Regions from separate parts of the Homo sapiens genome. Here regions 1, 2 and 3 are each reported to be linked to region 4. Evidence: microRNA targets listed by miRTarBase, many of them from high-throughput screens and not tested one by one. Region 4 holds a microRNA gene; each other region holds the end of a gene's coding sequence. Distances are between the middles of the regions.

Evidence for each region. Region 4 holds the annotated microRNA hsa-miR-4269 (GCAGGCACAGACAGCCCUGGC, at 3,970-3,990, shown strand). A microRNA usually pairs through its seed, bases 2 to 8, with sites in the 3' UTR of a target mRNA and lowers its output. Matches are read on the target gene's strand: a 7mer-m8 pairs with bases 2 to 8, a 7mer-A1 pairs with bases 2 to 7 and ends in A, and an 8mer does both.
Region 1: the mRNA of TSN is a reported target of hsa-miR-4269. Seed matches in the 3' UTR shown: 7mer-A1 at 5,146-5,152.
Region 2: miRTarBase lists TEDC1 as a target of hsa-miR-4269. The part of its 3' UTR that is shown has no 7-base or 8-base seed match.
Region 3: miRTarBase lists GIMAP6 as a target of hsa-miR-4269. Seed matches in the 3' UTR shown: 7mer-m8 at 5,426-5,432.

What each region holds. Positions count from the first base shown.
Region 1 is chr2:121,761,620-121,769,481 of GRCh38, forward strand. TSN (translin) reads left to right here. Exons shown (of 6, transcript NM_004622.3): 5 at 1,386-1,465; 6 at 3,515-6,234. The coding sequence ends at 3,748. Among named protein-coding and RNA genes, the nearest start is that of TSN, 9.9 kb to the left of the region's middle.
Region 2 is chr14:105,496,859-105,504,779 of GRCh38, reverse strand. TEDC1 (tubulin epsilon and delta complex 1) reads right to left here. Exons shown (of 9, transcript NM_001367178.1): 7 at 7,337-7,423; 8 at 6,803-6,982; 9 at 5,532-6,163. The coding sequence ends at 5,834. Among named protein-coding and RNA genes, the nearest start is that of TEDC1, 9.6 kb to the right of the region's middle. RefSeq lists a silencer at 5,674-5,968.
Region 3 is chr7:150,621,821-150,629,741 of GRCh38, forward strand. It overlaps GIMAP6 (GTPase, IMAP family member 6), which reads right to left. Exons shown (of 3, transcript NM_024711.6): 3 at 3,555-6,692. The coding sequence ends at 5,899. Among named protein-coding and RNA genes, the nearest start is that of GIMAP6, 6.6 kb to the right of the region's middle. RefSeq lists silencers at 7,507-7,707, 7,727-7,921.
Region 4 is chr2:239,301,503-239,309,423 of GRCh38, forward strand. MIR4269 (microRNA 4269) reads left to right here and starts at 3,960; the gene lies at 3,960-4,043. The region is part of intron 2 of HDAC4 (histone deacetylase 4); the gene reads right to left. RefSeq lists enhancers at 1,637-1,726, 6,063-6,709.

The sequences.
Region 1 (7,862 bases), 120 Mb from region 4:
GAATTAACTAAAAACCACTTATAGTTGTAGCTTGGTATCTGAGGATGATGCTTCCAGAGCTCTTCCAATACCCAAATCTGAGGATGTTCAAGTCCCTTATATAACTGGTGTAGTATTTGCATATAACCTATACACATTCTCCCACATACTTTAAATCATCTCTAGATTTCTTAAAATATCTAATACAGTATAAGTGCTATGTAAATATTTTTTTTTTTTTGAGACAGAGTCTCTGTCGCCCAGGCTGGAGTGCAGTGGTGCAATCTCCGCTCACTGCAACCTCCACCTCCCAGGTTCAAGTGATTCTCCTGCCTCAGCCTCCCGAGTAGCTGGGATTACAGGTGCCTGCCACTATGCCCAGCTAATTTTTTGTATTTTTTTTTTTTTTCCGAAATGGAGTTTTGCTCTTGTTGCCCAGGCTGTAGTGCAATGACGCAATCTCAGCTCACCACAACCTCCACCTCCTGGGTTCAAGCATTTCTCCTACCTCAGCCTCCTGAGTAGCTGGAATTACAGGCATGCACCACCACACCCGGCTAATTTTGTATTTTTAGTAGAGATGAGGTTTCTCCATGTTGGTCGGGCTAGTCTTGAACTCCTGACCTCAGGTGATCCGCCTGCCTCAGCCTCCCAAAGTGCTGGGATTACAGGCGTGAGTGACCGCACTCAGCCAATTTTTTGTATTTTTTTAGTAGAAACAGGGTTTCACCATGTTGGCCAGGCTGGTCTTGAACTCCTGACCTCGTGATTTGCCCGCCTTGGCCTCCCAAAGTGCTGGGATTACAGGCATGAGCCACCACGCCTGGCCTTTTCCCAAATATTTTCTATCCATAGTTGGTTAGCGCAGAGGGCCGACTCTACCTGGAAATGTAAAAGCTAAAAATAACAATGGCAAACACATTTGCACTTGCTTTAGTTTTTAAAATTGAATTTTTAAAAATTTCAAGCCTACAGAAAAATTGAAAGAATAGTACAATGAATACCTGTTTACATGCCACTTAGATTTACCACTTGTTAACATTTTGCTACATCTGCTTAATCTTCTCATTTTGTGTGTGTCTTTGTCAGCCATTTGAAAGTTGCAAATATCGTAACTCCTTTCTGAAATGCTTTATCATGTGCTTTCTAACAAGAAGTATATTCTGTGACACAACTAGATACTGTTTTTGATAGTATTTTTGAGGGAAGACTGAATTGAATTTTGCTTAAGAACTCAAAAAATCCATAGTGAGGTCTAGTTGCCAAGGTTGTGAATATATTAAAAAGCCAGTTTTTAAAAGATTCATCCTTTCTTCACTTACTTTGGGAGAAATTATGTGTATATTTTTATATTCTGAGGCTTAACTTGCATTCACAGCATGACTTTATTTTCATGTGTTTTTTAGTTGAGCCAGATCGGGAGAAAGGATTTCATCTGGATGTAGAAGATTATCTCTCAGGAGTTCTAATTCTTGCCAGTGAACTGGTAAGCTCAGTAACTTGCTGGTTGCTTTTTTGATCTTTCTGCTTCACTGTCAGTTTTTTTTTTTTTTTTTTTTTTTGAGACAGAGTCCCGCTCTGTCGCCTAGGCTGGAGTGCAGTGGCGCAATCTCGGCTCACTGCAAGCTCCGCCTCCCGAGTTCATGCCATTCTCCTGCCTCAGCCTCCTGAGTAGCTGGGACTACAGGCGCCCGCCACCACACCCGGCTAATTTTTTTTTGTATTTTTAGTAGAGACGGGGTTTCACCGTGTTAGCCAGGATGGTCTCGATCTCCTGACCTCGTGATCCGCCCACCTTGGCCTCCCAGAGTGCTGGGATTATAGGCGTGAGCCACTGTGCCTGGCCCACTGTCTGTTTTTAAAATGGGTACCAAAATTCAGAACGTCTTAATTCTTTTCTAAGCCATCTCTCGGTCACCAGGTAGTCACTGACTGGCACTGTATGTGTTACAATTTACTAGGCATCAGAGAAAAGCCAGATCAAATGATGAGTGCATACTTACTGAGTTAAGAATTTTTAACCGATGATAAGACCTCTTCCTTTTAGGGTAGTGGCAAAACATTTATTCCTGGTAACTGTTAATCCATGTAATTGTTTTGGACACTCATTTGTCTATATAACTAAGTTATTCTTATCCTTTATTCCTTTAACCACTATCTAGGGAAATTGCCCTGTAAAAGTCTAAAGAAAAAAAAAGCTGTCAGTAGCAAAATTGAGTAGTTGTGATAGAGACTGTGCCAGTCTGCAGAGGTGAAAATATTTACTATCTGGCTCGTTAAGAAAAAGTTTGCTTGTCCTTGCTCCAGAGGAAAGCAGTCCAGGGCTGGTCTGATGATTCCTTGATCTTTGGCCCTAGGTTCTTCTAGCTTCAGCTTCTTTCTTATGTTCCAGAACTGTTGCTCTAGTCACATCTTCACTCTAGCCAGCAGTAGGAGGAAATAGGGAAAATGGTATGCCCTCCCGCTTTAAGGACATTTCTTTGAAGTTGTACACACAACTTCTGTTAACATTCTGGTGCCTTGCCTGCAGGGAGGCAGAAATGGAGTCTATTGGAGTGGGTATGTGTGCATTGAAAACCTGAGGAAGATGGTGAGAATGGATGATGGGGTCCACTTGTAGGCTGTACCACTTGTCTGGCTTGTTGGAGACACCTGACCAGTAAACAGGAAGCATCTTGTTAGTATTAGTTAAGTGTAAGGTGTCTTTAGGACCATACATGTTGGGGCCGGGCACAGTCGCTTACGCTTGTAATGCTGGCAGTTTTGGAGACCAAGGTGGGAGGATCCCTTGAGGCCAGGAGTTCCACACCAGCCTAAGCAACAAAGCAAGACCCCTTCTCTATATTAAAAACAAACAAACAAACAAAAAACCCGTATGTTGACAGTGCACTAAAGGGGTAAGCCTGGAAAAGTGGAGAGGATTTTACAGAAAGGGGAATCTTTTTTATTATTTTAATATATTTTTTAAAGCCAGTCAAATGGAGCAGTAGGGGGTTGTATACTGACACCGAGAAGGGGAGTCTTGGGTTGGGTCTTGAAATCAATGTTAGTTCTCCTTCAAGACAGGGTTACACTAACATAATTTTAGATTCTTATCCCAAGTCTGCCTTACTTGATTCTAGGTGACTGGAGTTGCAGCTTAGTAGGTGGGCTCTAGAAATGTGATCATTTGGCCAAGGTTGGAAGAGGTAGTGGAGCTGCTGTGATTATTTTGTCGTTTCTTTCTTCGATATGATAGCAGATGAGCTGTAAAGATGCTTGTGTAATGTAACACTTTATTATGCAATAGCCAGTTTAAGAAATTAGAGAAATTTTAGATGTTAGTAATGTTAAATTTTACTTGGCAGAACTGGTCTCATTTTCAGTGGGATTCTTTTCAGAGAAGCTCCTGTCTTGTCTGTACTTGTGTGTACCCTGAGATAGAAGATCAGCGTGGCTGTCTAGGCTTGCGGTTCTTCTGGTTGTGATTCAGAGGAAGATGCGCTGAGAAGGAGCCATGTTGTAACAAGCCCCTGTTTTCTCTTTCCTGGTACAGTCGAGGCTGTCTGTCAACAGCGTGACTGCTGGAGACTACTCCCGACCCCTCCACATCTCCACCTTCATCAATGAGCTGGATTCCGGTTTTCGCCTTCTCAACCTGAAAAATGACTCCCTGAGGAAGCGCTACGACGGATTGAAATATGACGTGAAGAAAGTAGAGGAAGTGGTCTATGATCTCTCCATCCGGGGCTTTAATAAGGAGACGGCAGCAGCTTGTGTTGAAAAATAGGAGGCTCTCCTTGCTCCTGGCCTTGCTGACCTCAGCGGTTGCCAGGAAGGGGTGAGCACAGAGTGCCTCTTACGGTAGTTAGGATGCTCAGTTGCTAAACACTGCGCTTTATTTTCTTAACCAGTTGTGGTGTGAGTATCAGAATTGAAACACTTTTTTGGGGGTAAAAAATATAGCCTTTACATGGACAGAATTTTTTTTGTTGTTTCAGTGAATATGCCTGTAATTCAGTGTATTTCAGTTCCGTCAGAAAGTGTAAATGTTAGTTTCTTGGTAAAGTCCTTTTCTTGCTTACCTTGACTGTTGATGTACTGATTGAGAAGTTCATTGTCTCGTTTGTGATTCTTCCAGATGTGATGCTTGATATTTTCTATATGCGAGTTAGCCATCCACACCCAGGCATAGCCTGGATACAGTATAAAAATAGATAATTAAAAAGATGGTTGCCAAGCAAGGAAAACTTATTTTATATTTTCCCTTCCTTATTTTAAGCATTGTGAGTAAATCAGATGTTGAATTCTTTTGCCAAGGGAATTATAGCTGCAGGTTCTCTCTCACTGCCATCAAACTGTAAAAGATTAAACTGCGAAGTCAAGCTCAACAGATTATTTTGGAAAGTTTTTGTATTAAGGGATTTAGTAACATCATTTTGTTTTCCACCAGGCAGGGAGTAGGGCTTAGTGTTTTAAAACACCTCTGCTTTCTGATGTTGCCTTAATATTCTGCTATTGCAGCAATTAAAAATTGTCTTCATGTACATTTGGAACTAACACGTGATGTGATATATTCCTAAACTATGAAACCTTTTTCCTAGTAGTCAGCTAGATCATTTGTTCTGGGAGTATAAAGCCACCCACGTAAGTTAATAAGCAAAATCCTGACTATTATGTTGTTAGAGAAAAATGCTTTGCTTTGTCTGGAAGAAAGATAAAATAGTGAATTATAAATAAGTCAGGCCGGGCGTGGTGGCTCACACCTGTAATCCCAGCACACTGGGAGGCCGAGGCAGGGGGACTGCTTGAGCTCAGGAGTTCGAGACCAGCCTGGGCAACAAAGTGAGACTCCATCTCTATATAAAAACAAAAACCACGAAAGCACACACAAAATAAATCAGTGGGATTTGGTAATGTGTTTTAGAGTAAGAAATTTCAGGTTGTTGGTGACTATCCCAACAGTCATGTTTTAAATGTACAGTTTGGGGCAAGTCATGTAAATACTGTTGGTGGTCTTCCCCACACGCCCCAATTTTCAGGTAGTACTAAGAGTATGTGCCAGGAAACTCTTGCTATTGAATTGAGATGATTAAAATGGTGACTTAATCCGTAGTTATTTTGCACCCACTGAAAGGAAAGTGCTTTCCAGAATAATATGAAGTATCTAAAAGTGTCACCTTTTCTTGCCTGATCAACAATTTGGGCTTCCTGTTTGTACAAGGGGCCATTTGGCATACCTTTCACAGCTTTTATCAGGCCAAGTTAAAGGCTGACTACATTTTTTCATCATGAGGAAAGCAGTTGAAATGAGGCATGAGTTACTGTGCATTGGGATTTTAGAACAATTTTCTTGTGACAGCTCTTTTTGTGAAGTTAGGTTCTTAAAAGTGCCCATGATGGTCACTTAAAATGTGCAGTAATAGCACTGCCAGGATCAAGCATGAAAGGCTTTTAAATTAGATCATCCCACAGACAATACGTTTGATAATAGTTTTTTCTTTTAACCTCTTTAAGTATTGATTCTGCTTGAGAATATTGAAGTACTTGCCAGAAGTTGTGGATTTCAGTTTTAACAAATGCTATTAAAGTGGAGAAGCACACTCTGGTCTTGGAATTCCATTTGAGGATTTAGAAGTGTCATGTTTATAACTATTCAGTTGTGTTTGTTGCTGGCTTGTTGTAAAGCAATAAAATTTTTTTGGTCTTTTTGTAAGTGAGTGTGCTGCTGTAAGAAATCTCCCATGTGCATAACAAATTCTGAATATTTTTTGAGGCTAAAGAAGACCGGGGTGACAAGCAGATACTGCTGTGTAATGGTTACACTAACCAAAAGACACCAGCCACTCAGAGTTCTATACTGTAAAGCGCAGATAACATTTGTGTGTTATACCTTGATTGGGGAATTAAAAGTCATTTAACTGAAGATGTTGAGAAACCTGGGCTCTGGTTTTAGTATACCGGAATTACTTTTTTCCAATTTTAGAAAATCAAGCAGGTTAGAGAAAATAGAGATGAATTAGGGGACACTGTCTTATGGATTCATTTATAAGAAGAGAACCAGCCATATACACTTGGGGAGATTTGCCACATCTTAAACTTGAATAATAGTATGAGTAATGCTTAAGGGAGTTTAATAGAGAAGGAAAGCTTTGGCAGTGTTTTGAGAACTTAAGTGGCTAAAGAGATGAGACAAACATGCAGGTCGCTACTGGCATAGTTTCATAATTGTGTACTCGGAAATTAAAGTTTGCTTGTTTCTTGGTCTGGATTAAACTGTTTGTCCTCCTTTTCAGATAGAGCATCACAGTCAGGGCTGACACCAAAATAAGACTTTCCCTGAGCCTGAAATAATTTTTTTTTTTTTTTAAGTATCTACTGTAATAAGCATCAAACAAGCAGAAATAAACAATGTCCCTTCCCCTGGACAACAACAACAGCAATAACAAACATTTAAAGGCGGTAAAATTGCCAGGACTGGTGGGTTGGTTGAGTGGGCTGGGTGCGGGTAGTAGGACGAGATGGGACGGGACGGGGAGGAATCTAGCATCGCTGCCAGGTTTCTGGCTCAGGTTTGGTGCCATTCACTGAGGTGAGGAGTGTAGGAAGATCGCATGTCTGGAGGGGGCTGGGCAGCTGATGCATTTGCTTTTGGATGTGTTGGATTTATGACACTGGAGCGGCAGGTGGATAAATCAAAAGTGGGTAAGATCTCCCTGGAGAACGTGTAGAATGAGAAGAGTCACAAGCTGGGGACAAATTCTTGGTTAACAGCATGGCTTAACAAGGTAGGCAGAGGAAATGGAGTCCATGAGGAAGTGGAGAAATGGTCAGAGAGGCTAACAGAATGGGAAGAGTGGCTTGTTTCAGAAGCCAGGGAATAAAGGGTCTTAAGTTTTGGGGTGAGGGATTTAAAATAATCTACAGCCTGGGAGCTCCATGACTAATCTGTCAGGTTACGCTAGGTTATCCTGTGGGAACACCACCAGAGCTCATAGGCAAAGAACAAGGTTTCTCACTCACATTCCCTCTCCATTGCAGCTTAGCTGGGGATCTGTTCCACGTTGTCTTTATGTAGGGTGACAGAGCAGCCACTAACTGGACCATTGCTAGTTTTAGTGGGAGAGGGAGGGAGCTGTGGAGTGTCTTGCACAAATACATGATCTGGTCACTCTGACAATTATTGTTTTTTTTTTTTTTTTTTTTTTTGGAGATAGTCTGGCTCTGTCACCAGGGCTGGAGTGCATTAGTGCAATCTGGGCTCACTGCAACCTTCACCTCCTGGGCTCAAGCGATCCTCCCTCTTCAGCCTGCCTAGTATCAATAGCTGGGACTACAGGTGCAGGCTACCATGCCTGGCTAATATTTAAAATTTTTTATAGAGACAGGGTTTCACTATGTTGCCCAGGCTGGTCTCAAACTCCTGGGCTCAAGTGATCGTCCCACTTTGGCCCCCCAGTGTGTTGGGATTACAGGTGTGAGCCACTACACCCGGCTTCAATTCATTGTTTAAAGGTAGACACGTGGCCCTGCTAAACCACAAGGGGGTCGGAAGTGAAATCCTATCTTGTAGGATGAGAGTCAGGAATGGATAGACAAAATACTGAAGTTTGGGGGTATGTTTAGTTCAATTTGTTAAATATATAGTTGTAATACTTCCATATACACATGAACACCAATTGGCTTGGGAGGGAGAGAAGGTGCCCCAGGACCACTCTCCTGTTTGACAGAGTTCTCTGGTATGTGTGCATTTGTGTTGGATTTGTGTTACATTTTAAGCCAACATTCAGCGAGCTCTATGTGTTCCATGGGCTGGGCTAAACATTTTGTTTAATTATCTCATTTTGTCCTTATATAAGACAACTATGTGAGGTAGCTACTACTATTTTCCCTATTTTAGACTT
Region 2 (7,921 bases), not on the chromosome of region 4:
TCAAAAAAAAACAAAAAAAAAAGTAGGCATCTCGCCAGTGCCCCGCAGCCTCCCACCTAGCTGCTCATCTAGCAGTTCTGTCCCTCACTGTCGACAGCCACGCCCTAGGAGGACGTTCACAGCAAGGTCCTGGCCCTTCAGTTAACGGAGGGATGTTAAATTAATAGGACTTCGTGGCTAAACGGCTCTTGAACTTCCTGTACTCTGGGCTCAGGAGCAGCAGGTTTTTCCCACAGGCAAGGCCCCGAACTCCCTCCCTCTCTACTGCCCTTTGGTTCTGCTCTCATGCCGGCAAGGCCTCGCCCCAGCCCATCTCCTAGGGGCGACGTGGGGCCAGGTGCACACGGCCCTCGCCAGTAACATCCAGGCCTTTTCCTCCCTCTTCCCTGAAACTACAGGGCTGGCAGTGGTGTGTCTGCTTTCCAAGTCACTGGAGCACACTCTGATCACAATGCCAGCTTCATGCCAGGGCCCCACCAGCCTGGCATCCCCTCCAGCCAGGCACCCCCACCTCCCAGGGCTCCACCAGCCCGGGGCATCACCAGCCCAGCGTCCCCTCTAGCCAGGCGCCCCCACCAGCCCAGAGCTCCTCCACCCCAGCACCCCACCAGCCCAGTGCCCCCTCCAGCCTGGCGCCCCCCCCTCCAGCCTGGCGGTCCCCTCCGATACCCCAACCGGCCCAGCGCCCCCACCAGCCCAGGGCTCTGCCCGCCCAACATCCCCCACCAGCCCGGCACCCCCGCCAGCTGGGTGTCCTCTCCAGCCTGGCGCCCCCACCAGCCCGGCGCCCCCTCCAGCCCAGTGCCTCCCCAAGCCCGGTGCCTCCCACCAGCGTGACAAGCCATGGGTCCCCCACTTCAAGGCCCACATTTTTTTATTAGCTGAGGTCGTGGTAGCTGTTGTACCACCTCACTAAGCGCGTCTTTTTCTGTAGTTTTGATGCTGACGTCTTGCCCATTCCTGTGCCCCGACCACCCAGCTGCGTGGAGCAGCCCCCACTCTCTGTGGATAAAAGAACTTTCTTCCTACAAGACGGTCATTCCTGCGTCTGTGTGTTACCCTCCCTGATTACAACAAATCCTAGGCTCATTTTAAAAAGATACAGGCCCCACATTTAGGAGGCTGCAGCCCAAACCTCTGCAGCCAGCATCCTATGTCTTCGCTGCAGTTTATGGCAAGACCCTGGAGACCTGGTGAGAGCACAGCCCTGGTGTCCTCCTCCGTGGCCCCCCTCATCCCCCTCTGTCAGGTGTGTAGCCCCCACTCCAAGCGTGATCTTCAGCCCCCGGCCCTGTCCCTCAGCAGCACAGGTGATAAGCCCCTCCGTCCGGAAGCACTGTCTTTACTTGGCCACCAAGACCCCCAACTTGACCGCACCCCCACTTGCCAGCCATCCCCTCTGCCCTGCCTGTGCTTCCTACCACTGTGCAGGCCCAGGCTCAGGCCTCAGACCCAGGCCCCTCACCAGCCCCAGGCCCCTCACCAGCCCCGGGCCCCTCACCAGCCCCGGGCCCACCGCACCCTGGGGCCCTGCCCTGCCCTGCCCTGCCTCCCACCCCGGCTGAGCCCACCCACACCCTGCATTCTCACATTCCATTCTCCAGCCCCAAATTCCAGGTTCACGCAGCCAACTGCCCACCTGACACCCACTAAGATGCCAAGATTGTGAGCAGGTCAGAGCCGGGCTACCAAGCAGCAGTGCCCACCCCAGCCTGCCCAGTTCTCAAACCACCATGGGCCCAGCCACCACAGCTCCCTACATCACACCCGCAACCAAGACAGCGGCCAATCCTGTGCCCCAGTGGGCCAGAACCCACCTAGTCCAGCTGTCCTCCAAACCCACCTCCTCTGAGCCACAGAACCTCCCCACCAGCGGATGGGGGCAGAAGCCTGGGCCCTGCCTACTCTCAGCTTGTGCCCCCCTTGGGGCTGAGCCCCGGCGGGCACCCATGTCCTCCAGCTGTGAGCACTTTCCTCTATGGTGTTTGCTCTTCCCTCTGGGACATGGCCATGGGGCCCCTCAGAATGGCACATATTGGGCACCACGTGACTTCAGGTAGAATGACTGAGGGACCAGCCCAGCACAGCCAGGCAGGGCAGCGAGAGGCCGGGCAGGACACCCTCCGACCACTCTGAGGACAGGGATGGCTGCAGAGCCAATGCAGGCTCACACGCAGGGACAGACAGCTGGAGGCTGAGCCCAGGCGCAGGACTTCAGAGCCACCAGCCACAACCACACCCAAGGCCATGGGGTAGACAAGGGCAGTGTGGACTGAGCGGTCAGGGTCCCCATGAGATAAACAGGAACCACTCAGAAACACTTCTCTCCTGCCAGGAGCGGTGGCCTACGCCTGTAATCCCGGCACTTTGGGAGGTAGAGGCAGGCAGATCACTTGAGCCCAGGAGTTTGGGACCAGCCTGGGCGGCATGGTGAAACCCTGCGTCTACTAAAAATGAAAATACAAAAATTAGCTGGGCATGGTGGCACGCGCCTGTAGTCTCAGCCACTCAGGAGGCTGAGATGGGAGGATTAGTTGATCCCGGAAGATCGAGGCTGCAGTCCCAGCCACTCAGGAGGCTGAGGTGGGAGGATGACTTGATCCCGGAAGATCAAGGCTGCAGTCCCAGCCACTCAGGAGGCTGAGGTGGGAGGATGACTTGATCCTGGAAGATGGAGGCTGCAGTGAGCTGACTGTGCCACTGAGTGACAGAGCAACATCTTGTCTCAAAAAAAAAAAAAAAAAAAAGAGAAACCCTCCTGTCCAACCAAGGCGGGACTTCAGAGGCCGTAGGACACATTCCCTGGGCTCCAGGGGGAGGTGCGACCACCACAGGCCCCAGAGGTTGTGATCCTGACCTGGCCGGAGTCCCAACCAGCCTCATCCCTCAAGGCAGGGTCAGCCAGGACCAGGTGAAGGAGCCCTGAAGTAGTGCAGAAAGGGAAGCAGAGGCCAGGAAGGCTGAGCCAGCCGGAACAGAATAGGCAAGCGTATGAGACACTGCACTTCCATCTCATTAATCGTTTTTTCTTTTTCATATAGGGTCTCACTCTGTTGCCCAGGCTGGAGTGCAGTAACAAGATCATAGCTCACTTGGCCTCATAGCCTTGGTCTCCAGGCTCAAGCGATCCTCCTGTCTCGGCCTCCCTTCTATGTAGCTGGGACTACAGGCACATGCCACTACACCCAGCTGCTTTTTTTATTTTTTGTAGTGGTGGGGCCTCCCTATGTTGCCCAGGCTGGTCTTGATCTCCCAGGCTCATGCAATCCTCCCATCCAGGCCTCCCAAAGCGCTGGGATTACAGGCATGAGCCACTGCATCCAGCTGCACCACCTCTTAATAAACATTAGTTTTGGCCGGGCACAGTGGTTCATGCCTGTAATCCCAGCACTTTGGGAGGCCGAGGCGGGTGGATCACCTGAGGTCAGGAGTTCAAGACCAGCCTGACCAATACGATGAAACCCCATCTCTACTAAAAATACAAAAATTGGCCGGGCATGGTGGCGCACTGCTGTAATCCCAGCTACTCAGAAGGCTGAGGCAGGAGAATCGCTTGAACCCGGGAGGCGGAGGTTGCAGTGAGCCGAAACTGCGCCACTGTACTCCAGCCTGGGTGACAAGAGCAAGACTCTGTCTTAAAAAAAAAAAAATTTCTAGTTTTGTTGAAGTTTATTGCACCTTCCAGTAAGCGCACTTGGTCTCACGCGCCAGGTGACCTCTGCTGTTTCCTGTGAGGCCATCTTCGCCTCTGTCTTCCTGGGAAGCAAACTGCACTGTCCTTACACAGATGCTGGCTCGTCCAGGGTGCAGGGCCCTACTGCCCCAGCCAGGCCGACACCGTGGGCCTCCAGGCTGTTCCGTGGGTCTGGGGCAGGTCGCAAGACAGAAGGGAAAAGCTGCAGCTGGCCTTAAGACAGGAAGTCTATGGGGACAGAGGGGATGGGGGTCTTGAGGATGACTCGGGCTCCTGAAGGCAGGGGAGGGAGGCAGGAGAGTGTCAGAGAGGCAGTGTTGTGAGGACCTCCATGCCTGCTCTGAGCTGGGGGCCACACAGCCCTGCCTGCCCATCCAGCTTTAACCCTGTGGACTGGCAACCCCCGACCCACAGAACAAGAGGGCGTGACTTCAGGCGACTCGAGCCACTGCATGTGTGATAACAACTAGAGCTGAAGGCCAGGGTCCCATCCCTGCTCCATCATGACGGGCAGCACTAGGGCACCCTGCCGGCTTCCCTCCCGCAGGCCCTGGCCTCTCAGGCCCTCTCCACCGCCAGCATCATGGGGGCACACGCGCACCCAGGACTTGGACTGCCCTGAATTCACGCATCACATCGAGAGGTGACAACTCCATGACAATAAGCCTGCTTTTGTGCTCGTAAAAATCAAGTCCCCCAGGCCCGTGAGAGTCCTGGTTCTGTGGCAGTTTATAAAAAGCAGGGCTTCAAGTGGACTTGCTCCCAGCCCAAGAAGAGCCCTGTCCGGCAGTCGAGGGTTGCTGAGAGCACGGGGGACTTTCAGAGGCTGCAGGTGGAGGAGGGTTGAGGTCTGAGGGCCTGGAACAGAGCTGGAACCAGCAGGTGGAGGTGGCAGGAGCCCTTAGGAGGAGCTGGCGGAGGGGCCGGAGGGTGGCGCAGGCCAGGGAGCATTTGCACAAATCCTGGTGGCCCACAGGAGGCCCAGCTGCATGAGAGGGTCAGAGAGGTGCTCCTGAAAGGGAGGCCTTGCTGGCCACGGCCAGGTCTTGCCGGTGCTCCTGGGTCCCATGCACCGGAATGGGAAGGCAGGCGGTCTAGGCGTGTCCACCCCTGGGACCAAGGAGGCCCAGACAGGCTGAGACTGGAGCTGGAGCCCCAGGTGTGTGCTGTCACTCAGGCACATGCCCCAGTGAGAGCATGTTCTGGCAGGGGGAATGGACGTGGCCTCGGGGCAGGGCCGGCAGGAGCCTGGAGGTGGCCCCACAAGCCCCATCGTCTGCCCACCTCAGGTCAGAGTCCGACAGCCCCAGAAGAGAGGGGAGCCCGGCAAGGCAGGCAGGGCTGGAGGCCTCAGGGCCACCTGTGTCTGCTGGTGGGGGGCGGGGGGGGTGCCATGAGGCCGACCCTCCTTCCGCCAGGCTGAGGCACGTCCCCCGGACACAGATGGCTCTTTGTCAGGGATGAGCTGAGCTTGCTGAGCAGCCTCTGGAACAAAGCCCCTCTGTCCATGCTGTGCCTCCCCACCCGGAGCACCACCTCCCGGGAAGGAGCAGAGCCCCGGGCTCCCATCCGGCGCACCCACCAGGCACAGCCTTGGCCGGAGGTGGGGGCAGCTGTGCTCACAGCCCAGGGCCAGGCCCACAGCGGGAGCCCAAATGAAGGGGGGCGGGGCCGAGATAATCCCGCTCCAGGGAGGCCTGTGCCACCTCCCCGTGGTCCTGCCACTCACCAGTGCTGGGGTATGCATGTCCTCCAGCACCTGGCCAGCCCTACACTGGCCACCACTGCCCAGGGGCTCCTCCACGCTCCCACCCCCAAACAGGGAAACCCGACAGGGTGGCAGGGGGAGGGCCAGCGGCAGGAAAGCTGCTACAATTTATTTCCGAGTCCCCTCCAGACCACCAGGCTGAGCCTGTCACGACCTCCTCAAGGGACCAGCCATTCCTGTCCCCAGTGCTGCTAGCCACAGGCCTGGGATCCGGCCAGAGTCAGCCCAGCCCCACCCCTGGAGCGAGCATGTGACGTGGGCTCTGCATCTGCATCGTCCCTGCGGCCACCTGGCCTTGGAATCTGCTCCTCCAAGACCCAGCCAGGCTGGGCCAGGGCAGGCTTCCCACACGAGGGCCCGTCGACAGGCCCTCAGCGTCCAGGTGGCGGGATCCAGATGAGACCAGGGCGGGCTCCCACCAGCCTGGCCAGTTCCTGCCGACACTGTCCCTGTAGTCGACGTAGCACCGCCTCCAGGCAGGCCTCCTGGCTCCTCAGCGTCCTGATCACCACAGCTGCCCGCAGGTCCCGGTCCCCTGCTGCCCCATCCTCTCGTCTCACCAGCCGGTGTGGCCCATGGGGCTGGGCCGGGCCACCGTCTCGCTCCCAGCACTGCTGTAGAGCTCCCAGCTCCTTTTCCACAGCCTCCCGAGAGGCCCGCCGCGCGGCACTCCACTCTGGCCCCCGTCCACAGCCTCCAGCCTGCGTGGGACACAATGGCAATGGCTCTGTCCCCCCAGGACACTGGCCTCAGGCTCCCTGAGCATTCCCTGAGCCCAGACTCAGGTGCAGGCGCTGCAGGCATGCGGGAAACGCCCATGCTCTTCAGAGAGGCTTACTGAAAATTTTAAGGGGAAAATCATGCCTGCAATTTAAGTTAAAACTCTTCAGAAAAAGAAAATAGATGGAGCCAACACAGCCCCGTGTTCACAGCCATGAACCTGCGCAGGTTAAGCGGGCAGCTCTGAGTCTAGGGTGGAGGCCCAGGTGGCCACCAGGAGGTTAGACGGGTCCCAGGCAGGTGTGGAGGAGTGACTACTACCGTGTGATGCATGTGTGGCGGACGCATGGGAGCAGCAGGGCCCACACAGCACGGGCTTCCCTCCCTCATGCAAAGAATCAGACAACAGACCTCCCGCAGGAGGGGCGGGGGCTGTCTCGCAGCAGCTGCGGCTCCTCACCAGGTGCCCTCCCGCTCCCTCAGGGTACGTGCCTCTAAGTGTGTCCCCTGCCATGCTTGACAAATGCAACTGTAGGATTCAGCAAGTCCAAAGTGCCCTCAGGTCAGCCATCCCCCGAAGGTGGGGCTGGGCTGGTGCCCAGAGCGAGGCTGGCACTCACCTTGGCCTCCCAGGCCGCCCGCCTGCGCTCCGCAGCCTCCCGCAGCTCCTCCTCCAGTGCCTGCAGCTCCCGCACTACCAGGTCCAACTCGCCACCCCCGCGCTCGGGGACCCAGGGCAGGAAGGTGGGCTGTGAGGCTGCAGCAGGCACCTCCGGGGCACAGGTGCCCAGGACCGTGTCCTACAGAGACCCAAGTGAGACAGCGTGCACCAAGCCAAGGGGACAGAGGGACAGAGGGCAAAGAGGGCAGTGGTAGTCCCCCAGGTCCCACAGCGGGCTGGATGCCACCATCTCAGCAACTGTGACGTCCAGGGAGGCACAAAGGCCACACTCTAGAAGGCCATGGAGCTGAGGGCGGGGGCAGCAGTGAGCCTCCCCAGAAGGCGAGTGGAAGTCCTAGAAAGAGCCTACACTAGGTCTGTGGCCTCCCTAAAAGCCCCTCTTCCTGTCTGGAAAACAGGAAGATCCCGAATGCCCCACCTGGGGGCTGCTGTGGGAAGGGATGCCGGGAGAGGGATGCGCGGGCTTCCTCACCATCCACCGCCAGAAGACCAGCTCAGAGCGCCGCCACGCCAGGACAGCCTCCAGGCGCTGGTTCTCACGCTCCAGAGTCCGCAGCAGCTGGAAGGCAAACGGCAGCTGGCCTAGAACCTCACACGGGACCCCATGGACAGACAGTCGGATGGACAGCTGGACCCAGCGCCGACACCCGGCCCAACGCCTAGCTCACGCCCCGCCCCTGCAGCCCTCCCCTGCCTGCGCCCAGGTTCTCTGGCCAGAGCGATGAGCAGGGCACCCTGGTGTGGTGCGGACGCCACAGCCCACCTGTCCTTTCTGCAGTGCAGGGCAGCCCCCAACCAGTGCACGGCCAGGCCCTGCCTGCCAGGCAAGAGCTGCCCCCCGGCTCTGAGGACATCCGCTGTCCCCCACACCAGCCCCACTGCCAGTCCAACAAGGTCAGGGACAGGTCCAGGTGCCTCTCAAGCCTAGACCTCTGCCCCACAGCCCTCACTGAATGCGGGCTGTATCCGGGGACTGCAGGCGGACGGGGAGGCCCCAAACGAAGGAGCAAGCCAGGCTCTGGGGGAGGGAAAACCCATCCCCTGTAACTTCAGGGAC
Region 3 (7,921 bases), not on the chromosome of region 4:
AAAACATGGAGGCAACATAATTTTCAGAAATAACAGACCCCAGTAGTCCTGGGTTATAAAATATGAAAATGAGACTACTTATATCACAAGGGATTTGTGCCAAATATCTAGCTAAAATTCTTATTTGACAAGTGTAAAATACTTTAAGATAATCTATACCACTAATTCATATTTTTGTCTTGAATTTACATACCTCACAAATTTTGAATATTTTGAGACTAAACATTGCCAAAGTCTTTGTAAGACAGTGTCTTACATCACACTTCTCATCTAGTGCTCAAGAAAAATACTTGTGAATTTTCCAATGTTAGCTCAATTAGTCTTTGTTATTATTTAAAAAGTCTTGCCTCTGTGGGCATTTTTTGGTGCCTTAATGGAAGACTTTTCATGTTTCCTATACATTTAATTTTTTAAGTTTTTTTCTGCCACGTTTTCCAACAAAATTTTCTGTAACTGAAGTAATAATTTATTGTACCTTCTCTCCAACTAAAAATGTTGTTTTGTGTGTGTGCAATAATCCAAGTTTTATTGCTGTCAGTCATAAGCTCAGATCCTGTTAAAACATCTTTAGTTTTTCGTTGTTGGATGTTTAATTCTGGCTCCAGGTGACTAACTTTGTCAATTCTGTTTTTGATTGTTGAGAGAAAGCTTTTTATCAAGCACCCTATGTATCTGCTGAAAATGTCTCTTCATAATAGTACACTCCATTATCTTTCCATTTTTTTAACACAACAAAAAAGGTGTGTGTTTTCTTTTGCTGTACTGTGGCGTATTATAATTACTATTAATCATGAAATTTGCAACATGTCTTCTGCTAATCTATAGTTCTCTTTCCTGTTCTAATTGTAGCACTAGCTTAATCATCTCCATTCAATTCTGCATCAGCATTATACCTTCACTTCAAAATTAAAACTTGGCTATACTTATTTTAAGCTAAAAAGTAATTTAATTGTATTATAAATAAAATAATAATTAGCATTTAATTTTAATTATCATTAACAATATAGATAGGTGTAACTATAACTCATGCTATCTACATAAAATATTCAAATAAAGATATTGTGTCCTGATAAAAAATTATTCAAATTGAATCAATCCATTGACACTGACTAGATCAGGGATATATTTATACATGGTGCTGAAAACAATCCATGTGGCAACACATTTGCAGTCCAATACAGATACATCTCTATTTTCAGATTTTTTCTTTTACTTCTTTTTTTTTTTTTTTAAGAGATGGGGTTCCACCATGTTGCCCAGGCTGGTCTTGAAATCCTGGGCCAATTATCCTCCAGTGTTAGCCTCCCAAAGTGCTGGAATTACAAGCGTGAGCCACCATGCCTGGCTCAGATGCTTCTCAACTTACAACAGAGTTACGTCCTGATAAACCCATTGTAAGGTGAAATATTGAAAGTCTAAAATGCACTCAATAAACCTAACCTGCTGGTCATTATAGCTTGGCAACAGTACACTGTAGGGTAGCAGTTGTTTACCAGAGTAATCGCGTGCTGACTGGGAGTTGCAGCTCACTGCCACAGCTGAGCTTCGTGAGAGGGTGTCACATGGCTTTCTACTGCATGCACAGAACTTTCATATCATCATCAAGTCAAGAAATCCTAAGTCAAACCCTCATAAGTCAGGGATGATCTGTAATATCTTAAGTGAGGCAACAGTTAGAGGTAAAGGTATTTCCACCAAAATAGTAAAGTTGTGTTTCATGGTAAAATATTTTACACTGTTTCAAAATTTAAAAGTAATGACAACTGAATAAAATTTAAAATTTAGTTTCTCAGGTGTACCCCTATATATTAAGTGCTCAGTAGCCACATGTGGATAATACCTACCTTATTGGATACTGTCGTTTCTAGAAAATATTCAAACGTGGAATTTTAATACACACTTCTACATAATCCATGAGTGAAAAAAGACAGCACAAGAAATATAGAAAGTATTTTAAAAGAACGATAGTGAAAATAGAATATTTTAAAATGTGGGCCAGGCGTGGTGGCTCATGCCTGTAATTTCACCACTTTGGTAGGCTGAAGCAGGAGGATTGCTTGAGCTCAGGAGTTTGAGACCAGCCTGGACAACAAAGTGAGACCCCATCTCTACAAAAACTAAAAAATTAAGCTGGGTGTGGTGATGCATGCCTGTGGTCCCAGGTACACAGGAAACTCAGGTGGGGGAATTGCTTGAGCCTAGGAGGTTGAGGCTTCAGTGAGCCATGATCATGCCACTGCACACCAGCCTGGGCAACAGAGCAAGATCCTGTCTCAAAAAAAAAAAAGATAAAAATGTGTGAGATACAGATAAACATGCACAGAAGGACATTTTATATCTCTATATTTATATGTTCGAAAAGAAGAATTTTTAGTAAGGTAAAGGATATTGTAGGTAACATGTTGTAGAGGCTTTGGATATTATATCTTCTGCAGAATATTGAGTTTGTTCCAACGGGCACTTAAATTACTGGTGGATCGCTTTTGCCTTGGGAAGGCTTGATTTTAGACATCATTAGCAAGGGTTTGCTTTAATTTGCTCTTCCTTCTAGGGCAAGTCTCTCAGTGCTGAGATGCAGTACTTACTCCTAAAATATGATCCTTTTGGTATTTCAGTGGAAATATACAAGTTTACCAAGGTCTTCTAACTTGATGGACTGGAACTTGCAATTCTCTTTGCTACTGTGGGCAACTGCTGACATCTCTGATCAGCTCTTTCAACCTCCACAGAAGTTTTCCTGGGATCCTCTGGAGAGTGCCCTGTGCTTGTACAGTTCAGGGTCAGCCAAGGATTTGAAGGGAGAAATGCAGAGCTTTTGGTACCCAGCCCGCAAATCCCCACCACTCCATCTCCCCGCTCTGCAGCTCTTTTATTTTGGGGAGCTCCCATGTAAATTTTTACCTGCTCTGGTTGTCCCAGGCTCCACCCTCCCACCCTCCAGGCCACTGTGAACATCTGGTGTGTGCCATGTCTGCATCCACACGACTGAATACTGCCTTAATGTGAAAAGTCACACCAAGATGAGACTAGTGTGGTCCCCTCATCTTAGGGGTCAGGTTCTCTGCATGAGTGTCTACCTGCATTTAGCCATTTCCCATGCCTTCAAAGTTATTTTCTTAGTATTATAATTTTGAATTTTCTATGCACTTTATAAATGTTATCACAAAAAGGTTAGAGGCTGGAATCTTTCTGTAACACTCCACACCTGCTTTGATCCACCAAGGAGGAAAAACCCTGTACTGACTTAGCTCAAATTCTCCAAATCCCTGTTTTTCATCCTTCACTTTAGTGTAGAGATATTTTTAACAAACTCTAAAAGCTGCTATTATCACAGCTTTGGCCAAGACAACCCTCTCTCATCACCATCACCCCCCACCACTAATTTCTTACTGGTTGATAGACTAGAGTTTCTAGAACATACCCACACATGCTTTCCCCATTCTCCTCTGAAGCTGAAAGAGTGAGAGCTATGCAGAGACATCTATCCCTATTCCTGAAATGTCATGGGAGATATCTTTCCTGGTGCTTAGCAATAAAAGAGAGAAAACACCATATTTGAGGTAAATAAAAACAACATTTAATGAATGACATGTTTTGAGTGCCTTGCCAGTTAGTCGCTGAATGGATCTCATTTGGTCAAATGCTTGTGTTTTCTATTATGACATTACTTAAGCTAATAGAGTTAAAATAATAGCATCAAAATTTACAAAATTATCTCCTATCTGAATGAAAATGCAAATGATTCTAACTTTTACTTCAGTAGCTCTGGAGTTTCAAGTCTGTTCACTTAGAAATAAAATGGCCTTAATTAACTTATACTTGAACTACCAATTCCCTCAAACTTAACATAAATGTAAGACATTGCCAACTAGAATACCAATATGATTTTGGGGGGAAATTACAGAATGATTTTAACTCTCACATAGAAGAAAAAAATGCCTGAGAATAACAAGGTAAATATAAAAATGAAGACTGAGGCAAAAATTGGCTCCCACATTATAGTCAAAGCCACTGTAATCAAATCAATATTTTATTCATACAGGAGTAGAAAAGTAGAAGACATGAACAGAAATAAAAATTCTGACCAAATCTTAAGGAGTGTGAATGAGAACTGAATGTATGATAAATGTTGCATGTTCAGTTCAATGGGAAATTGATCGCTTATTTAATAAGTGATTGTGGCACAAAGGCTGTCTTCAGCAAACACCAAATAACTCTGTGCTCTGCTTTGAGACACTTTTCTGAATCTGTTAGCAAGAGAAATGCTGAAGCTTTCTCAGATGTCTGCTGTGTCTAGGGAAGATGGGGGATGGCTTCAGAGCAAGAGGCCACAGGTCGGCTGTGAGCATCTGTGTCTAGCTGTTGAGCATCTCCAACAGTGGATGAGTGTCCAGGTAGACCTGAGGCTGTGCCCTGAGATTTCTGATCATCTCCCAGCACTGTCTCCACCAGCTGTACTTCCCGCCCCTCTCGGGAGAAACTAGCTAAAGGCCCCCTGCTACGCAGCTTGAAGAAAGGAAAAGAGGAATATATTGGGGAGCAGTTTCCCCAATGCCTCCTATTATCTTCCCAAATGTCGGTCAACTCCCCAGGAGCATCTTGGACCTCAAAGGAGGTGGGGTGCACCCGGGGCACATCAGTCTCCTCTTGCTGGCAGGCAGCTTCCTATCCGAGGCCTGAGACAGGATGACATCCTACTCCCTTCTCATCCTGTCCAGTATCAGTACTTATAAACCCCGTCTGTAGGAACAGCCTTCCAGGAAAACATCATGGGCTTCAGAGTTCTCCCATAAACCAGGCAGGCTGCCTCGCAAGATGTTTAAGTCACTCTACTGCTTCCTTTGCAGGCCCCCTTTCTTCCCTGCCTCCTTGCATTGGACCCCCACAAATACTTTGCTAGGGAACCCGTTTGCACACGCAGACACCCCATCCACATGCTCCCATTATCAAGGGAGAAGGGAGGGGTGGCAGTGAAGGGCGAGGCAGGTTGAAAGTAGTCTGTGCCTTCTAGGAGCAGAAGGCAAATATCATGAGGGGCCATGAAACCCATGGAAAAAGGGGAAGTAACAGATGCAAGTCATCTCTAATCTAAGTCTACCTTGGTGGGGTGGTGTGACCTCCTCTGCCCAAGTCCACTTGCATCCCTAGGGGCTTCCATGTTCTGTAGCCAGGGCAAGGGACCACCTACTTGACCACAGTCTGACTTCTTGGATACCCTGCCCCAAACTTCTCCCATCATTCCCACTAGGAAGTTCCAACGGGGCTTGTTTGTTACAGCTCAAGAGTGAATAAAAGGGCTGCTCCTCCTGCCTCCATCCCTGTTCCTGCTTGCTCTCCTCCCAGCCCAGTCTCCAACCCTCCCCACCCAGTCTCCAACCCTCCCCATGTCTCAGCACCACTGCCATGTTCCAGCCACCAGACACAACAGGCACCTTAAACCATCATGGTGTGGGGAGAGATGAGAAGTCATCTGGTCAACAGCTTGCATGGAGTTGCCGCACCAAACGTGACTGCATGACTCCAATGCAGTCAAAAGCTGTGGAAGTTACACAGAAGTAAAAGATACAGGCCTGCCCTCAAGAAACTTTGGTTCTATCAGAGTATAGACAAGTAACTCATGAAAGGCAATGCAATGAGATAGAAGGTCCAATAGGAAGACAGCGTGCTGTTGGGGCACAGAGGAGGGAGGACCCAGATGTTCTGGAAGAAGGAATGAAGGAACTGGAATGTGATCTGGGCATGCTGGACCCTGTCCTCAAGCCCCATGCCCCTCTTCCTACACCAGACGTCATGACCTGGAGACTGGGAAGCACTCCATGGGATGGAAAGAGAAACAGAGGGCTGGACACAGGGGGGTGCAAAGGCTGATGGTGTCCTTGGCTCAAGTCCAGCACAGGCTCAAAGGTCAGCCTTCCCCAGCAGGCATCTGTGGGCTTCCTCAGATTCCTTCTGGATCTGGGACAGTCCTTCCAGCCAAGACTCCTCACCAGGCACGTCCTCAGAGCCTTGGCCCTGGCTTACTTGCCTTTCCTGTAGTTCTTTCAGCCGAAAGTTTTGCTGGGTATATTGGTAAGCCTTGTTGCTGTAATAATCTCCTTCGTTTTCCCACATAATGGCTTCAACTTTCTCCATGAGCTCTCGCAGTTGGGCCTCCTGCTCCTCCCCCTGTGCCCTGTTGTTGAAGCCGCAATGGCGCCGTGCAAGGGTCACATCCAGCCAGGCAAGGGCCTGGTTGTTGGTCTCTCGCACATAGTCTTCCAGGGAGCCGCCAGCCAGGTCTTCCTTCCGGGTGAACACCAGGATGGTGTGACCCAGAACCCCCACTCCAAAGACCTCCTGCAGGCGCCTGACCACCTGCTGATCCTCATCCGTGAACCGGCCCAGTTGTGTCACCAGGAGCACGGCGTGGGGCCCTGGGGCGGATAAGACGATGGCTTGGCAGATAGCGTCTGCCACCTCTGGCGAGACCTGGGGGGACAGAATGTTGGGTGTGTCAATCACCTCAAGCTCCTTCCCAGCCCACTCTCGGCTCCGTCTCTGGGAGGTCTTGGTCACGGGTCTGGTGCTGAGTTTAGACTCGAAGACGTCCCTGCCGAGGATGCTGTTTCCTGTTGCACTCTTCCCACTCCCTGTTTTCCCCATGAGAATGAGCCTCAGTCTCCTTGGGGTCTTCTGTTCTTTCTCCCTTAGACCTAGAAATATCCAAAGAAAGCAGAGGGAACTGGGGTAAGGGCCCATGTACCCCATCTTGTCATCACCAGGAGCCTCTGGGTGTACCCCCAGACTGCAGGGGCAGATTGTAAAAGACCAACATCTGCCCTGAAACCAGCGCTGGGCCACCATTCTGGGCCCACATCCTTGAAGGTGGGGCTGAACGTTCTCTCCCAGTGCAAGAGCAGAGCCTAGAAAGAAGAGCGAGACTTGGCCAATAGAACACCAAGAAACCCAATACCAAGGTTTTTAGATATGACTGGGGAAGAAGGCAGGAAGGGAATTCCCTTCTCCTGGCCTTGCGGGTCCCAAGACCCAGAGCACATAAAGAAGTGACAAGTAATAGCTGGTTTCCCAGTCTTGTCCCCACTGAAGACATTGATGTATCTCAGATGACAAAGCATGAAGCTGGCATGTGGCAGCATGGGCGTGGCCATCTCCTGAATCTCCTGGGCACCAACAGGCCTTGCTGTGGCCTGACAGCCACCCTTGGCTCTGACCCACGTGCCAATTCTAACTGAGTGACATTGGGCCCCCTCCAGCTTCCCCAAGGTGGCTGGAAGGAATTTGAATGAATGGGCAGAAGTCTGGGCAGTAGATCTTCATCCCCACCCACCTAGCCCAGTGCAGAGCCAGAGGAGACAGGAACCCCCATCTGAGCAGCCTGGAGCTAGCACACACCACTGGACTTTACTAAAGCCAAATGCATCACTTGAGCTCTGGAGAGGATTCTTAAAAGAATAGCTAACCTTGATTGCTATAACAAAAGGTCAAACAGGTGTTACACAGGTATTGGTAATGTCCCTATTGTAGTAGGTTAACGTGGCTTTTTCCAGATGGCTCAGGCCATTTAAGTTCATAAAGTAAAAGGTCATTCATATTAAAATACATAATGAATCACAAATCATTTCTTCTGGCCAGGAAAGGGCTGGGTTTCCAGCATTTGTAAATCCTGCCTCCCCAGGATGAATGACGAAGTTGAGCCCATGAAAGTTAAGCGCCTGACCCTGTGCAATGGCTTTTGGGAAAGGGACGCCCTCGATAAGGCAGAGCCCAGATCTGAGGCAGCAGCCAAGTACATTCTGCTTGTGCACAAGGCGCTTTCAAACTTACAACTGTGACAGCTCCACTTCGGAGTCAGCCAAACACCCATACAGGGTCTGTTGGCATCCAAGCCTCAGTCCAAGGCCACTTATTTTCGTCACACGCA
Region 4 (7,921 bases):
ACAGGGTCTCCCCTCTGTCACCCAGGCTGGAGTGCAGCGGTATGACATGGCTCACTGCAGCCTCGACCTCCTAGCTCGAAGGATCCTCCCACCTCAGCTTCCTGAACAGCTGGGACTACAGACGCATACCACCATGCCCAGCTAATGTTTTTAATCTTTTCTGTAGAGAGGAGGTGTTCCTATGTTGTCCAGATTGGTCTCAAACTTCTGGCCTCAAGCAATCCTCCTGCCTCAGCCTCCCAAAGTGCTGGGATTACAAGTGAGAGCCACTGTAGGCCTATTTCTTTCTTTATGAAAAAAAGTAAGAGTAAATTGTGATCAAATACTACAATGCTACTGCGGTGTGATTCCTGAATGGTAAAAACCTTACCATGCTTTGTTTCTCCATCAGATGCCTTGCTCCTCACTACTGCCAAGGAGATTACGCCTAAGACTGATGGTACAAGTCTTTTCTTTAAAACAAACAAACAAAAAAACACAACAACAACAAAAAAAACAGGCAGGGGGTGGGGGATTCAGAGTCCTTTACTGTGAGGTCAAGAATAATTCCTAGCCATGGAAAATAATCTCTAATGATGCTATAAACAGACAGCTCACCAAATCAATCAGAAAACATTCTCAGTATCATTCTCAGTCTGTCAAGAACAGAAAACCTAACTCCTGCAGGCTTTACTGTGAAATGCTTAGAACTCTGTCCTGATTGGAGAACATGGCCCCTTGTGATGGACAGGCAGGCGGCGGCCAAAGCCCAGAACCCAGCATTAGCCAAAGGAGGCATCAAGCTGAAGTCTCGGGTGAGTTCATTTCAAAGTCAAGGGCAAGGCCACCCTGGCAGCAAATTCTTCTGGCTACTCAAATTCGAATATTGCAGAACTAGCACTAGAGTTGCCAAGCTATAAAACACGAGCAGAGAGAGGAGGCCCTTCCACAGGAATCCAGATTAGCAAAACCCCTTGCTCTCTTCATCAAAACTCAGATAAGTTAGCTGAAAACCTGGGGACGGAACAGCTTCCCCCAGGAAGGAGAATCCACGTGGGGCCATGACCAAGCACTCCAAACACTGCAGCGGGCGCTGCCCCTCTTCCAGCGACACAGTGGGAGCAGCCCAGCCATCCAGTGACTTTTTGTGGACATGGCCCAGCCCCTCAACCCTCGAGCCAGGACCCAGTCCAAGAGCACAGCACCCTCCACTCTCCCTGGGCCTGAGCATGGCACCAATGTGCTTCACGCAGAGCGTTTCGTGGGCGCACCCCTGCAGGAAGAACCATCGCTGCTCAAGGCAGTCATCTAAGAACTGCTCACTCTTGAGAAGGGCAGGTCATCTTACTCCTCCCCAAAAGAGTCTCTCAAGTTAGGCTCTCACCCATAGGAGGGACTTGCTGGGCGTGCGGGGAATGGCATTGTGGTGACAGCCCCAAGCAGGGGGCCACACAGGCTCAGGCCCGGAGCACCTTGGCAGGGAGAGGAAAGGTGTGGGCACTGCCTGGGCACTCTGCATGCTGGGCTGGGCGTCACCCCTGCCACCTCGGGAGTCCTCAAACCCCCCCCGGGTGGGAGAGGTCATCACCTCCGCGTACTGAACAGAAGCCCAGCTCAGGGTTCAGGGTGGGCCCCTGGATTCAAAGTGGCAACAGAGCCTGACTCCAGCCTCAGGGCGTGAGGCACCTGGCCCTGGCCTGTTCCCATCCCACACCCGGCTGCTCAGGCCTGGGGACAGGAGGGCACAGGGACAGGCCTGGAGGACAAGGTCCCTGGAATCCCCGACAGCTTGACAATGTGAAATAAGTTTCGCTTCCTTTTTATCTACGCTCCCGGATTGACTTGTCCTCCTCTGATGCCTGGTTCCTCTGCCATCAAGACCCGCCGTCTGGTGTGAAGGGAAACGTCCCTCACCCTTCTGCAGTCGCCACCGAGCACTCGTGGTGTGGCCCACAGGGCATCCTGCGAGAGCGTCACAAGCACCCCACGAACAAGACACGGCAGCGTGCTTCCTCGATCTCCCCGCTCCTTTCTCGGGACAGCCTGTGGCTTGTTCTCCCTTAAGAATCCTCTCATCAATGTTACGTTGTCAGCTTTCTCTGTTTTCTTTCTTTCTTTTTTTTTTTTAATTCACAATTGAGGAAACCAACAGGTTGAGCTGCTGCCTCAAGTAAAAAATTCAAGTCAGCCCTGATGCTGTCCATGTTTTTTGTAAAACTTGCTCACTTGTAAACAACGTCGGGCAGCAACTGCAGGCCTCACCCCTCACTCTTCAAAAGCGACTGCGACAGCTGCATCCCCCGTGCTCAACTGCAGGGCGCGGCACTCGCCTATGCTCTCATGAAGCCCCGTGCCAAGGGCTTCTCCGGGACCCCAGATACCCACCAGACCCTACAGGCCTGCCCCGTGGCCCTGGGAATGCTTGGCACCAAGGTCCCACTTCCCACCTCAGTCAAGCACCTGCCTCCCAGGCCTCACCAGTCTTCATCTCAGCCCGCCAGGTCCTCTCGAGCCCCTGGAGTGCCCTGTGAGCCACAGCTTATAAAGCAGATAGGACCAGCTCTGCATCAGACCCCTGTGTGCAGGCCCAGCTCCCCGACCCGTAAGCAGTTGACCTCAGACCAGCTGCTTAACCTCTCTGAGTCAGCTTTCTTACCTATAAATGAGGATAAAAGCAGGATATTCACAAAGCCCAGAGCTAGAATGCCTCAAGCAGTGTGAGCTCGGGGAAGAAGTCCACACAGGACACAAAGCCCAGAGCTGGGAAGGCCTCAAGCAGTGTGAGCTCGGGGGAAGGAGTCCACACAGGAGCAGTACCTGTTGCAATATTTTTATTACATGCTGGGAAGATTAAATGAGATAAGCCGTGTAAACACCAGGCACATAGAAAGCATGAAATGATACCAGGTGGTGGCATGGTGTTACTTTCATTATTAATAATTTGAAAAAGCAGATTAACAGCTCAGGCCCTGCTGAACTCAGAGCCCCCATGAGGATAGAGGCTATAACGTAACAGACATGAAACGTCCTGAAAGCTCCACGTGCAAAGTGAGTTGCTTATGCCTGCGTAAACTTCTTGTTCTTCAAAAGATATGCTGTTTTTAAAAGGGACTGACTGGTGAAAAAACCTCACACACAAGGCAGTGCCCCTTTGCCAGGTCCTGTAAACACTACCGTGTCCTGCCCTCGGCTCCTGGGGTCAGGAGCTCTCAACGAAGGTGTGACCCTTGTGCCCAGCGTGCAGACTCCAGGGGTAACTGCTTGCTTCTGAATCTCCTTAATGGAGCTTAGGAATGACACGCTATGGACGCTGACTGTCCAAGCAGAAACAAGGCCCCCTTGGGGGCTTTCTAAAGTTAGTAAATACATGTATATATAATATATATACACACACATAGGAGAACGCGAATGACTGGGCACCCAGGGTCTCTGTGGGGAGCCACATGGCCCAGCAGAGAACACAGTTAGCATCACAGAGTCCAGCCGTCCCCTCCCCACGTCAATAGGACAGTCCCGCGCTTTCTTCCAGCCGGCCTGGGGCATGTCAGGAGGCAGGGCCTGTACTGCAGGCTCTGTGTTCTTAGACAGCCTTTGCAGGGGGCAGAGGTGCCCACTGCCACATGGGCACACACAGGAGGCTCACCACGTTTCTTCAAATGCAGATGACAAAGCAGCTTGAGTAACACAAATACGGCCACACTCATCTGAGGATTGCTGCTGTGTTTTCTAACTGCATGGCCATGACCAAGCAGTCGGTTTTCATCCAGGTTGGTAGTCAGGTTTCTGAAAGCGATGGCAGTCGCCTCAGGGCTGACACGGGGAGTCTGCTTGGCACACCTTCACCCTCGTTACATTTTCTGGACAATGGTAGGGAACATTCCTTACTCCGCTGGCCTGTCAGCTTGGCTAAGCCTGGTGCAAGTGGCTCGCTGTGGGTCCGCGGCTCCATTACGGGGGAGTCTGGGTCATCTGTGAGCCCAACAGCGCCCTGCAGGCACAGACAGCCCTGGCTTCTGCCTCTTTCTTTGTGGAAGCCACTCTGTCAGGCCTGGGATGGAGGGGCAAGAGGCTTTCAAATTTTTCCTTATTGTTGTATATTTTTTAAAAAACTATTTATTTTAATGGTGAAATAAGTTCTAAAAGTTTCTGGACTTGTAGGTAAATGAATAAGAACTGAGTGTGGTTTTTAATCATGTTCACATTATTGGTGACGGTGCGGCTTAGTTTCATTTAGTGACTAAATTCTAGCCATCCCTAGACTGATGGCCACGAAACGTGTATTTCGAGTTGAAATACATTTATTTAACACACATGCACACACAATTACACGTGCACACAGGAAGCTTTAGCAAGTACTTCTCTGACCCCATTCCCTAAACACGACTGGGAACGAGGCTGCCGCTGCCCACACGGGCCCTGAATCTGACAGCATTCAAGGAGACCACGGAGGAACCGTGACAAAGAGCTGGTAGCCACCGGCATTTCAGATGAATGCAGCACCCTGGGCAAGCACAGTGTCTGCGTCTCCCCCACGCTGAAATGATTCCTAGTGTCCTAGACTGCCTGGCTTCACATGAGAAACACTCTGCTTAAGTAACTACTTCATCACTCAAGGTCCCAAAGAATGCTGCCCACCTCGGTCAGCCTTGCTTCTAGAAACCGAGGATTCTGGGTTTGGAGGCACCCCAGCTCTTCCCTGGGAAGTCATTTTCCTGAATAGATCTGACTTCCACTTATTTTCCTATCATTTCCCATCTTTTCATACATTTAGAAGGCAAAAAAAGTTCATCTTTCTAGTGATTCCAGGAGCTCCCTGGCCCATCCACAGGTGGGTGAGCTCCCACCCAGGTCCAGCAAGTCAGTGACTACAACAGAGGACACAGCCTTCCAGTGGACACGAGGACCTCAGAGGCCACCTGGCCAGGCCCCATCCACGGATGTGTCCCTGCCCAGGTGCCAGCAAGGACTGACTAATACCTGACCCAGGGCCAAGCTATCCTGTGTCCCATACTCGGCCCGTAGAGCCATCAAATCATCTGGGCCCCGACACACTTGTTTCGTACCTTTCCCGGTCATGATACAAAACATAAGCTGGAAAGGGTGCTCTTCACCTAAACAAGGTCAAACACAGGCACTACATCAGGCACCCCATGTTCCCCCTATATGCCCCCCACACTGCCCAGGTGATGGCAGAACCCAGGTCCTCGGGCGCAGAGCATCCAGGGCCCAGGGCCCACAGGGTTTTACATGGTGAAAAGGGGTAGGGGGTGAATGCTAAGGGGCGAAGGCAGGACCCCACCCCAGCCAACAACCGGGAGACCCTGGCCTGGTTTCCCACACACCCCCGAGGAGCCAGACAGGATCGAGAGAACCTTCTGGAAGGAGCTGCAGGGATGCATGGGGGCGTTCAGGAATGTCCAAGGAGGGCCTGAGCCTCCCGTGTGCACCTCCCCAAGGGCGCCTGCACCCTGGGCCCAGGGTAACCCAGAAGCAGCAGGAGCCGCAGGACCATAGGGGCCACCGGCAGGGTGGGTGATGCCATCCTTCCCACTCTCGCCCTCCGGCCTTCATTCAGCACTCTGGTGAGCCCAGAGGCCCGAGTCGTCCGGATGGCCCATCTCAGGCCACACCCTCCAGCTCTGTGCCTGCCGTCCATCCTGGGTGCCCACGAGGGGTCTGGAAACCCTGACAGGGAGGGAGAAGAGAGCCCTGGGCACAAAGCCCAGGGCCTGGGGCAGGCTCCGTGCCCCAATGGTCATCCTCAGATGAGTGGGGGCTGTGCTCAGGACCCTCAGGGGACCATGGGCTACTTTCAGAAACAAGAGGGTGTTCTGTTTAGAAGCAGAGAGCCGAGGAGCCGGAGGCCCCAACACAAGAGCGGCTCTCCGTGATGCCCAGAGGCGGCCACTGGGCCCCAGGAGAGAGGGGCTTGAAGGATGGGTACCCCAAGCTGTCAAAAGACCAAGTGGCTACAAAAGGGAACCCCCCTCCCACCACTAATCAGGGACCTGCCAGAGATACGAGGGCCCAGTGGTCACTAAGGCCCATCTCTGCAGCTCCGTCCTCTCACCTAGATAAAGTGAGTGTCTGCTTCCTGGACCTCGCAGACTCACCAGGGACCCTAAACTTGGTTTTCCAAATAGCCAAACGACAACTCCTGCTCAAGAAAACGCATGCAAGAGAAGCCCTCCTCACTCAGATGACGTTCTCATGACCGCACTTGGTCTAAGCAAATGCTGCTGGGATGATTTTCTTCAAGTTCTCTTTTAGAACAAGCAAAATGGAATGAGGATGTCGGAGTGTTTCGTGCTTTCTTTCCAGAGGGTTTCCCAGCCTGAAACGCCACCCCACAGCCACTGTGGATTTGGGGACTGTCACACACGTCTCCACGCACCCCGAGCCACATCACGTTTTGCCACTATCTCAGAATTCCTGATCTCCACCTGAAAACGGAACACAAGGCCCGGCAGCAACAGCCAGCAAAGTGTCCCCATCCCCCCCAAAGTGAGCGGCCACACAGCAATGAGTGGCCACACAGCAACGAGCTGCGAGGAGCCAAGGATGGCCCATCCCACCCCCAACGGTGAGAGCCGGGCCCATCACAAGCCCTCTCTGGGCCTTGTCACTCACCCTTCCTACACCCCATCACTCACCCTCCCTGGGCCCCAGCTTCCTCATCTGTGAGATGGGGGTGGTCAGCGTGCAGGAAGCCCTCCTTGACGATGAGCTATCAGCTTAGGGACAAGAGAGCTAGAGACCCGGGGGGGAGTCCACTGCCTTGGGGACACGAGGGAGCCAGGGTCACTTTCTTCCTCATCAAGCTGGCCCCCTGGTGACACGGGACAAGAGGATAACCTGCTTGGTACTCAGCAACAGGCTTTCCTAATAAGAATTCCACACTTCCATGAGGCTGTAATCAACTTGGGAGTGAGGAGTTCCTTAGCTTCCTGTTTTCAGAGAGTCTTCTTAGCAAAGTGAGGAATCTGCAGATCTCTCTGAAAGATCAGCTACCAAAGGAAAATAACAATAATGAAGATATCGTTGGTGGAATACATAACCTCCATCCACAGCCAGATACTGCTTCCGGAACCACACTTCGTATCCAGGTGAGCTCGTTTTTTGTATTTCAAAAGCACAAAGATCTATGTTCATGGTGTAGTCCAGGCAGAGTGTGGTTAACAGGCCTCCGGGTGTCCCCCCCTTCCAGCCCAGTGCAGGGGTTCAGCCGCTGCAGAAACTCCGAATCTGCTAACGTGAAGTGCCAAGACTGCTGTCCGCCAGCGCCCTCACTCCCCCAGGGCCTGTACCTGTAGCAGGAGGCTCACGTTCCGAGTCCTCATTGCTCCCAGACCCAAGGGCAAGGCTGTCACAGGCGAAAGACGGGTTCCCCTTCCTCTACACCCAAGCCCTCGGAAGCACGCTGCAGGCCCCTGGAGGTGCCACAGTGCTCCCAGCTCCCCCAGAGGCTGAGTTCAAACATTCTAAACGGATTCTTGATAACAAGCCGCCGGCTCGCTGGAAGACACTGAGCAGTTACATAACAGCACAGAAAATCCCTTACAAGTTTCTTAAAAAAGAGTTAATCGTACTGACTTGGTGCTTTACCTTCAGCCCAGACTTTCGCTTAATCCCGGAAACTGCTCCAAAGGCGTTTTTCTCAGGGCGTTCGGCGCCGTAACTCAGGAGAAACCCAAGTCCTGCTCTCCCGGCGGCCTCGCTGGGGAAGAATTCAGCCGCTCCACCCTGACATCTGGTTTCTATTTCATATCCATGTTGTCACATTACATAACAAGCAGATGATACGAGAGATCACCACAGTGTTTCGGCTCGAGAGTCACAAAGAACGCCCAGAACACTGTTTATATTGGGGGCCATGAACGTTCACCAAACCAGACTTAGTGCAGAGGCTGCACCCTTCCAGGCTGAAACCCAGCACCTACAG